Linked DNA regions of Homo sapiens. The protein of the gene in region 1 purifies or fractionates together with the protein of each later gene. This does not show direct contact. Each region holds a gene or a part of one and is shown in the gene's direction. Other genes may lie near its edges.

Evidence for each region. The genes of interacting proteins can lie anywhere in the genome.
Region 2: the proteins of SULT1C4 (region 1) and RPAP1 purify together in Homo sapiens (affinity purification with mass spectrometry; one large-scale study listed by BioGRID and IntAct). This does not show direct contact.

What each region holds. Positions count from the first base shown.
Region 1 is NC_000002.12:108,384,338-108,387,991, forward strand, and holds part of SULT1C4 (sulfotransferase 1C4), read left to right. Parts: intron 1-1,854; coding exon 1,855-2,035; intron 2,036-2,982; coding exon 2,983-3,095; 3' UTR 3,096-3,654. UniProt on the Homo sapiens protein: Sulfotransferase that utilizes 3'-phospho-5'-adenylyl sulfate (PAPS) as sulfonate donor to catalyze the sulfate conjugation of phenolic compounds.
Region 2 is NC_000015.10:41,537,656-41,541,309, reverse strand, and holds part of RPAP1 (RNA polymerase II-associated protein 1), read left to right. Parts: intron 1-3,654. UniProt on the Homo sapiens protein: Forms an interface between the RNA polymerase II enzyme and chaperone/scaffolding protein, suggesting that it is required to connect RNA polymerase II to regulators of protein complex formation.

The sequences.
Region 1 (3,654 bases):
CGCCTGCCTCAGCCTCCCACGTAGCTGGGACTATAGGCACCCGCCAGCACGCCCGGCTAATTTTTTGTATTTTTTACTAGAGACGGGGTTTCACCGTGTTAGCCAGGTCTCAATCTCCTGACCTCGTGATCTGCCCGCCTCGGCCTCCCAAAGTGCTGGGATTACAGGCGTGAGCCACCACGCCCAGCCAATAGCTTTAAGAAACTTTAAGAAGTGGTGCAATGGAAAATACTAATGATTTAGATTCAAAATTATTGAAATCAAGTTCTGTCAATTCTTGGTAAAGACACTTAACATCTTGGGAAATTAGTTTTCTTAAATGTAAAAATGAAGATAATAATATTTACCCATTCAAGATTTATTTGAGGACTAAATGAGATAATATCAGTGGATGTTTATTGTAAATAATCATCTACTCAGCTATTTTCTGTGACCCCACTAAATACAGAGATCTATACAGAATTACAGTGTCTGTTCTTGAATTGGTCGTTGAAAGCCTTGATACTCAACAGGTGCTTCACAGACTAGTTGCATGAGCTACTGGAGCCTGCTGTAGGCCTGCTAAGTCTGGAGTTTTATAAAATTCCCAGGAGATTCAAGCACACATCACCATTTAGATGCACTTCTCTAAGGTTCAATCACTGCTGGGCCTTGTGATATGAGTGAGTTCTACAAAATATCAAAGGAGTGGAAAACACAGACTATTTTCATGTGGTTTTTAAAATAATTGTTATAGCTCTAGGATTCTCAGAAGCATGATCAAAGAACCAGCAGAACAACCTATGAGGTTATCAGTATAAAATTCCCTTCTTTGTGTTTACTTTGTTTTTACTTGGTACAAAAGTGTTGTGCCACCATACGAAGACTCCAGGCAGATGATGTTTCCCTACAGCATGTATCATAGCCATGTCAGAGAAAGGATATGTCGCTGGGAATGGGGCTCTTTTGTTTAGGTAGACCCTAGCGTATTATGCATGCCAGGAAGAAACTTTATCGAAATAGGTAATCTAACCTCAGAGTCCCTAAAACTTTTAAAAATATTGCTGTGATCTTGTTCTTGAATGTCCCCTCACTGTAGTTCCCACAAAGCTCACAATTCTCAGCACTCTCTGATTCCTAGCCTGTGTGAGGTCAATTAAATGAAACATTTTTGACATACAAGCTTTTAAAGCAGAAGCCCACTATAGACACAGTGGTCAGGGTAAGCGCTTCCACTTTCCTTCCCCACCCGCCCTCTGCTCCTAGAGATGGAGGCGTCCCACAGCCACAGTGATGTCACAAGGTTGTATGTCCCTTTGATGCGAAATCAGTAGCTACACTGGAACTCAGCTCCTCTCAGTTCCACTTGACTTGGTGGTCTGGTACCAGAGTCACTAGCCATGAGTGCCTCTTGAGGCATGCAAAAAAAAAACTTCTCTCCTCTCCTCCTGCCATCACTGCAGTCTGGGGACATTTCTGTCAATGTCAGAAACAGGATGTAGCTTCCTCTGTGTCAGGTCTTAAATCTTCTGCCCCTGTGCTTCTGAAATGCCTTGAGCAGGGCTTGTGGACATAACCCTGACACATTCCCTTAGTGAACCATTCACTAGGCACTGTATGTCATTGTCTGGTGAATGTTTCACTAACCCTACCCAGTTGATTACATATTAAGGGGAAAAAATTATTAGTGATTCCAATTACTAAAAAAAGAACAATATGGGTCATCACGTTAAAATGAGTCACTTGAGCATTTGTTAAGATTTGTTTTTTATTTTAGCTCGTAATATGTTACCGGTTACTGTCATTAATCCATCATAATATTCTTTTTAAACTAATTCTATTAAATCATTACTTTTCTTTTGACTCTGATCATAGAACCCAAAGCATGAAATTCAGAAGCTGGCAGAATTTATTGGGAAGAAATTAGATGACAAAGTTCTAGATAAAATTGTCCATTACACTTCGTTTGATGTCATGAAACAGAATCCAATGGCAAACTATTCATCGATTCCTGCTGAAATCATGGACCACTCCATTTCTCCATTCATGAGAAAAGGTTTTTATAGTTTATTTTCATTATAATCTTAAAAGAACTGTCAAATATTTTAAAGCATTTGAGGAGTTTTCTTTCCTGTGTCTAGGAAAAATAATATCTGTAATAAATGATTTGGGGAAAAGAAGTATTTAAGAAGCCACTGATAAAATGAAAATCGCGTTTAATTAGCCAATTATTATTAAGATTAAGAGAGTAAGATTTGATGTCCAAATCCAACCACTTATCCCCACTTTCCCTTAAGAGTTCTGGCTAATAACATGAAAATATATAGAATTAAGTCAGATAGGGCAAAGAATCCATTTTATAGACAGTTCTATGCTATCAGATTCAGTCATTCAAAGGTACTTACTGAGGGGCTTCTATGTGCCAGGCACTGTTCTAGCCACTGTTTGCAGCAGTGAACAAAACACAAAAATTCATGCCTGCGTGGAAATTATATTCTAGTGATAAGCAAAATAAAGAATATATAGATAGATAACATTAAGAAAAACGAAACTGGGAAAGGTAACAGGGATTACAATTAGAGAATTTGTGGGGGGAGGTCTTATTTTTTCTTCTTCAAATGGTACCTTGGGCCTCCCAGAAATAGGCCCTTCTTGGTCAGTTTACAGCATGGGAGCTACAGTCATGAGCACCCACCATGCTTCAATGTGCAACAGGGCACAGGGAAAGACAAGAAAGCCCTTCAGGCCTGCTATTGTAACATGGCGGTCTCGCCCACCCACTAATGCAACCAGGTGGCAAGAGACTCTCCTTGTCTCACAGATCAGACAAGAAAGTTGTCTTCTCTTCAGGATAAGGAAGTGACAGGATAGCAAGAGAAACGTTTTGTCCAATACTGCCCTTCCTAGAACATGGCATAGAAATCATCATACAGAAACAGGAGAATAGGGAAGCACAGACTCTTCCAACAGCTACTGAACCTCTCCCACATAACTGTATTTCAGGGGCAGTGGGAGACTGGAAGAAACACTTCACCGTGGCTCAGAATGAGAGATTTGATGAAGATTACAAGAAGAAAATGACTGATACCAGACTAACTTTCCACTTCCAGTTCTAGTAAGGAAGAAAAACTGAAAATGTTTTAGTTTATTACCCAGTATATTTGGGTAATAATGAAAGTTTAATTCTCATAACAAATGATATCAGATTCCAGTTATCAGAATAGTTTACTGTGTTTGCTCTTATTCACTCTACTAAAAAATTATTTTAAAAGGCTGGAGGCAAGGTGGTGACAGGCAGCAGGGTGGCGACATGGAGAGAGGGAAGCTCAATAAATCACTAGGTACAATCCTGGTATCATTGCCAATTATCATCATATTTACATTTTCTACAATCATGTGCTTATTAACATATTGGAAATGCTTCAGTCCTCACATGATAATACACTAACATTTTCAGATTAAGTTTTGGTTCAAGTTAATTTTTTTTTTTTTTTTTTTGAGACGGAGTCTCGCTCTGTCGCCCAGGCTGGAGTGCAGTGGCACGATCTCGGCTCACTGCAAGCTCTGCTTCCTGGGTTCACGCTATTCCCCTGCCTCAGCCTCCCGAGTAGCTGGGACTATGGGCGCCCACCACCACTCCCGGCTAATTTTTTTTTTTGTATTCTTAGTAGAGAC
Region 2 (3,654 bases), on another chromosome or scaffold:
CTGGGAGTACAGGCACATGCCACCACGCCTGCCTAATTTTTTTGTATTTTTAGTAGAGATGGGGTTTCACCATGTTGGCCAAGCTGGTCTTGAACTCCTGACCTCAGATGATCCACCCACCTCAGCCTCAAAGTGCTGGGATTACAGGTGTGAGCCACTGCGCCCGGCCCTATTCCCTGCTTCTATACCTTTGCCCAGCTCTCCCTTCTGGCTGGAGGCCTATCTTATCCTTCAAGGTCTGGTTCAGTGGTTTTCAACTGGGGGTGATTTTTTTCTGAGGTGACATTTGGCAATGTCTGCAGACATTTTTACTTGTCACAACTAGGGGAGGAGGTTTGATGATGACGTCTAGTGGGTAAAAGCCAGGAATGCCGCTAAACATCCTACAGTGCGCAGGACAGCTTCCCACAGCAAAGAATTACCCAGCTATAAAGATCAATAGTCCCTATTGAGAAACCTTAGTGTAGTTGCAGCCTTTGCTCTTCAGGAGATTCTTTATAGTTCTTCCCCATCTGCCTCACTATTCCAGACTTCCAGGACACCCAGGCACCACACAGCAGTAGGCAGTAGAACATAGTGGGTAAGAGCATGGACTGACTGGGATTGAATCCTAATCCTAGCACACACTTACACTGAGACCTTGAGCAAATACTTAACTTCTCAGCACTATTCTTTTCTCAGCTGTAAAATTTGAATAATAGTAGTAACTGGCCCGTTGCAGTGGCTCACGCCTGTAATCCCAGCACTTTGGGAGGCAGAGGCGGGCAGATCACCTGAGGTCGGGAGTTCGAGACCAGCCTGACCAACATGGAGAAACCCAGTCTCTACTAAAAATACAAAATTAGCTGGGCGTGGTGGCACATGCCTATAATCCCAGCTACTAGGGAGACTGAGGCAGGAGAATCGCTTGAACCTGGGAGGCGGAGGTTGCAGTGAGCCGAGATCGTGCCATTGCACTCCAGCCTGGGCAACAAGAGTGAAACTCCATCTCAAAAAAAAAAAAAATAGTAGTAACCTACCTCCTAGGCTGTTATGAGGATTAAATGAATGAATATGGAAAAAGTGCTTAGAGAACAGTATGTGGTGCATACTAAGTGCTCAATAAGTGTTAGATATAACAATATTTTTATTATTATCAGCATCTAGCTCAGGGGTTCCAAAACTAGCCAGCCAGCTTGCAGATATCTTTGGCCAGCCCAGCGTTTTTTGTTTTATAATTGATTTATAGTTTATATACCACAGAAGTCATCATTTTATTTTATTATTATTATTTTTTTGAGACGGAGTCTCACTCTGTCGCCCAGGCTGGAGTGCAGTGGTACGATCTTGGCTCACTGCAGCCTCCGCCTCCCAGGTTCAAGTGATTCTTCTGCCTCAGCCTCCTGAGTAGCTAGGATTACAGGCACCTGCCACCACACCCGGCTAATTTTTTTTGTATTTTTAGTAGAGACTTCACCATGTTGGTCAGGCTGGTTTGAACTCCTGACCTCGTGAGCCACCTGTCTCAGCCTCCCAAAGTGCTGGGATTACTGATGTGAGCCACCGAGCCTGGCCAGAATTCATCATTTTAAAAGTTTACAGGCCAGGTGCAGTAGCTCAGGCCTGTAATCCCAGTACTTTGGGAGCCCAAGGTGGGCAGATTTCTTGAGCCCAGGAGATCGAGACCAGCCTGTACAACATGGTGAAATCCTGTCTCTGTAAAAAACACAAAAATTGTGGGGCACGGTGGCTCACGCCTGTAATCCCAGCACTTTGGGAGGCCAAGGCAGGTGGATCATGAGGTCAGGAGTTCGAGATCAGCCTGACCAACATGGTGAAACCCTGTCTCTACTGAAAAACTACAAAAAATTAGCCAGGCATGGTGGTGGGCGCCTGTAATCCCAGCTACTCAGGAGGCTGAGGCAGGAGAATCACTTGAACCTAGGAGTCAGAGGTTGCAGTGAGCCGAGATCGCGCCATTGCACGCCAGCCTGGGCAACAAGAGCAAAACTCCGTCTCAAAAAACAAAAAACAAAAAACAAAAAAAAAAACAAAAATTAGCTGAGTGTGGTGGTGCATCTGTAGTCCTAGCTTTTTGGGAGACTGAGGTGGGAGGACGGCTTAAGCCCAGGAGGTAGAGGTTGCAGTGAGCCAAGATCACGCTACTGCACTCCAGCCTGGGTGACAGAGCCAGACTCTGTCACAATAAATTAATAAAGTTTACAATTCATGGCTTTTAGTATATTCACAAGGTTGAACATTTTCATTACTCCAAAAAGACGCTCCATACCCATTAGCTGTCAATTCCCATTTCCCTCCAGCTCTCCTAGCCCCTGGCAACTACTAATCTACTTTCTGTCTCTATGGATTTGCCTATTTTGGACATTCCATATGAACAGAATCATACAATATGAGGTCCTTTTTGGCTAGCTTCTTTCTTTCTTTTCACTAAATAAAATGTTTCTGAGTCATATAGCTTCTTTCACTTAGTATAATGTTTTCAATGTTTGTGCATTGGAACTTCATTCCTTTTTGTTGACAAATAAATGTAAGGTCTCTATGTTAATTTCTTTTTTGCCTTTGTGCCATGGTTACGTAAAGTCTTAACCTTTGGAGAAACTGGGTGAAGACTACATATGGAAACTGTTCATACTATCTATATAAATCTGTAAATCTAACATTATAACAAATCACAAGTTTAAAAAGTACATAAATTTACAGTATATAGAGAAAAATAGAAATATGCATATTTTATCATGATACAAAACATTTGATTGCTGACCTGTTTGTTGATTTTTTTTGTTTTTTCTTTCCTTTTTTATCCTCTAAGCCTCTGATCACTTATCATTGTCAAGGTTGAGCAGACAGAGAAGTGCATACATTCTGCAGCTTGAGTGCCTAACTTGAGATTCTGTTTCTGACATTTACTGTGGATTTGGGGCAATTAAATTAACTTTCTGTGTCAAGTGGGAGGATCACCCAAGCCCAGGAGTTTGAGGCTGTAGTAAGCTATGATAGCAGACTGCACTCCAACCTAGGTGACAGAGTGAGATCCTGTCTGTTTTTTGTTTTGTTTTGTTTTGTTTTTTTGACAGAGTCTCACTCTGTCGCCCAAGCTGGAGTGCAGTGGCTCCATCTCAGATCACTGCAAGCTCCGCCTCCCGGGTTCACGCCATTCTCCTGCCTCAGCCTCCCGAGTAGCTGGGAATACAGGTGCCCGCCACCACGCCCGGCTAGTTTTTTATATTTTTAGTAGAGACGGGGTTTCACCGTGTTAACCAGGATGGTCTTGATCTCCTGACCTCATAATCCACACGCCTTGGCCTCCCAAAGTGCTGGGATTACAGGCGTGAGCCACCGCATCCGGCCAATGCAATTGTTTTCTTAATTCCATTTTCTGCATGTTCTTTGCTAGTGCATAGACATACAATTTTTTTTTTTTTTTTTGAGACGGAGTTTTACTCTTGTTGCCCAGGCTGGAGTGCAATGGTGCAATCTCGGCTCACAGCAACCTCCATCTCCCAGGTTCAAGCGATTCTCCTGTCTCAGCCTCCCAGGTAGCTGGGATTACAGGCGCCCACCACAATGCCCAGCTAATTTTTTGTATTTTTAGTAGAGATGGGGTTTCACCATGTTGGCCAGGCTGGTCTTGAACTCCTGGCCTCAGGTGACCCA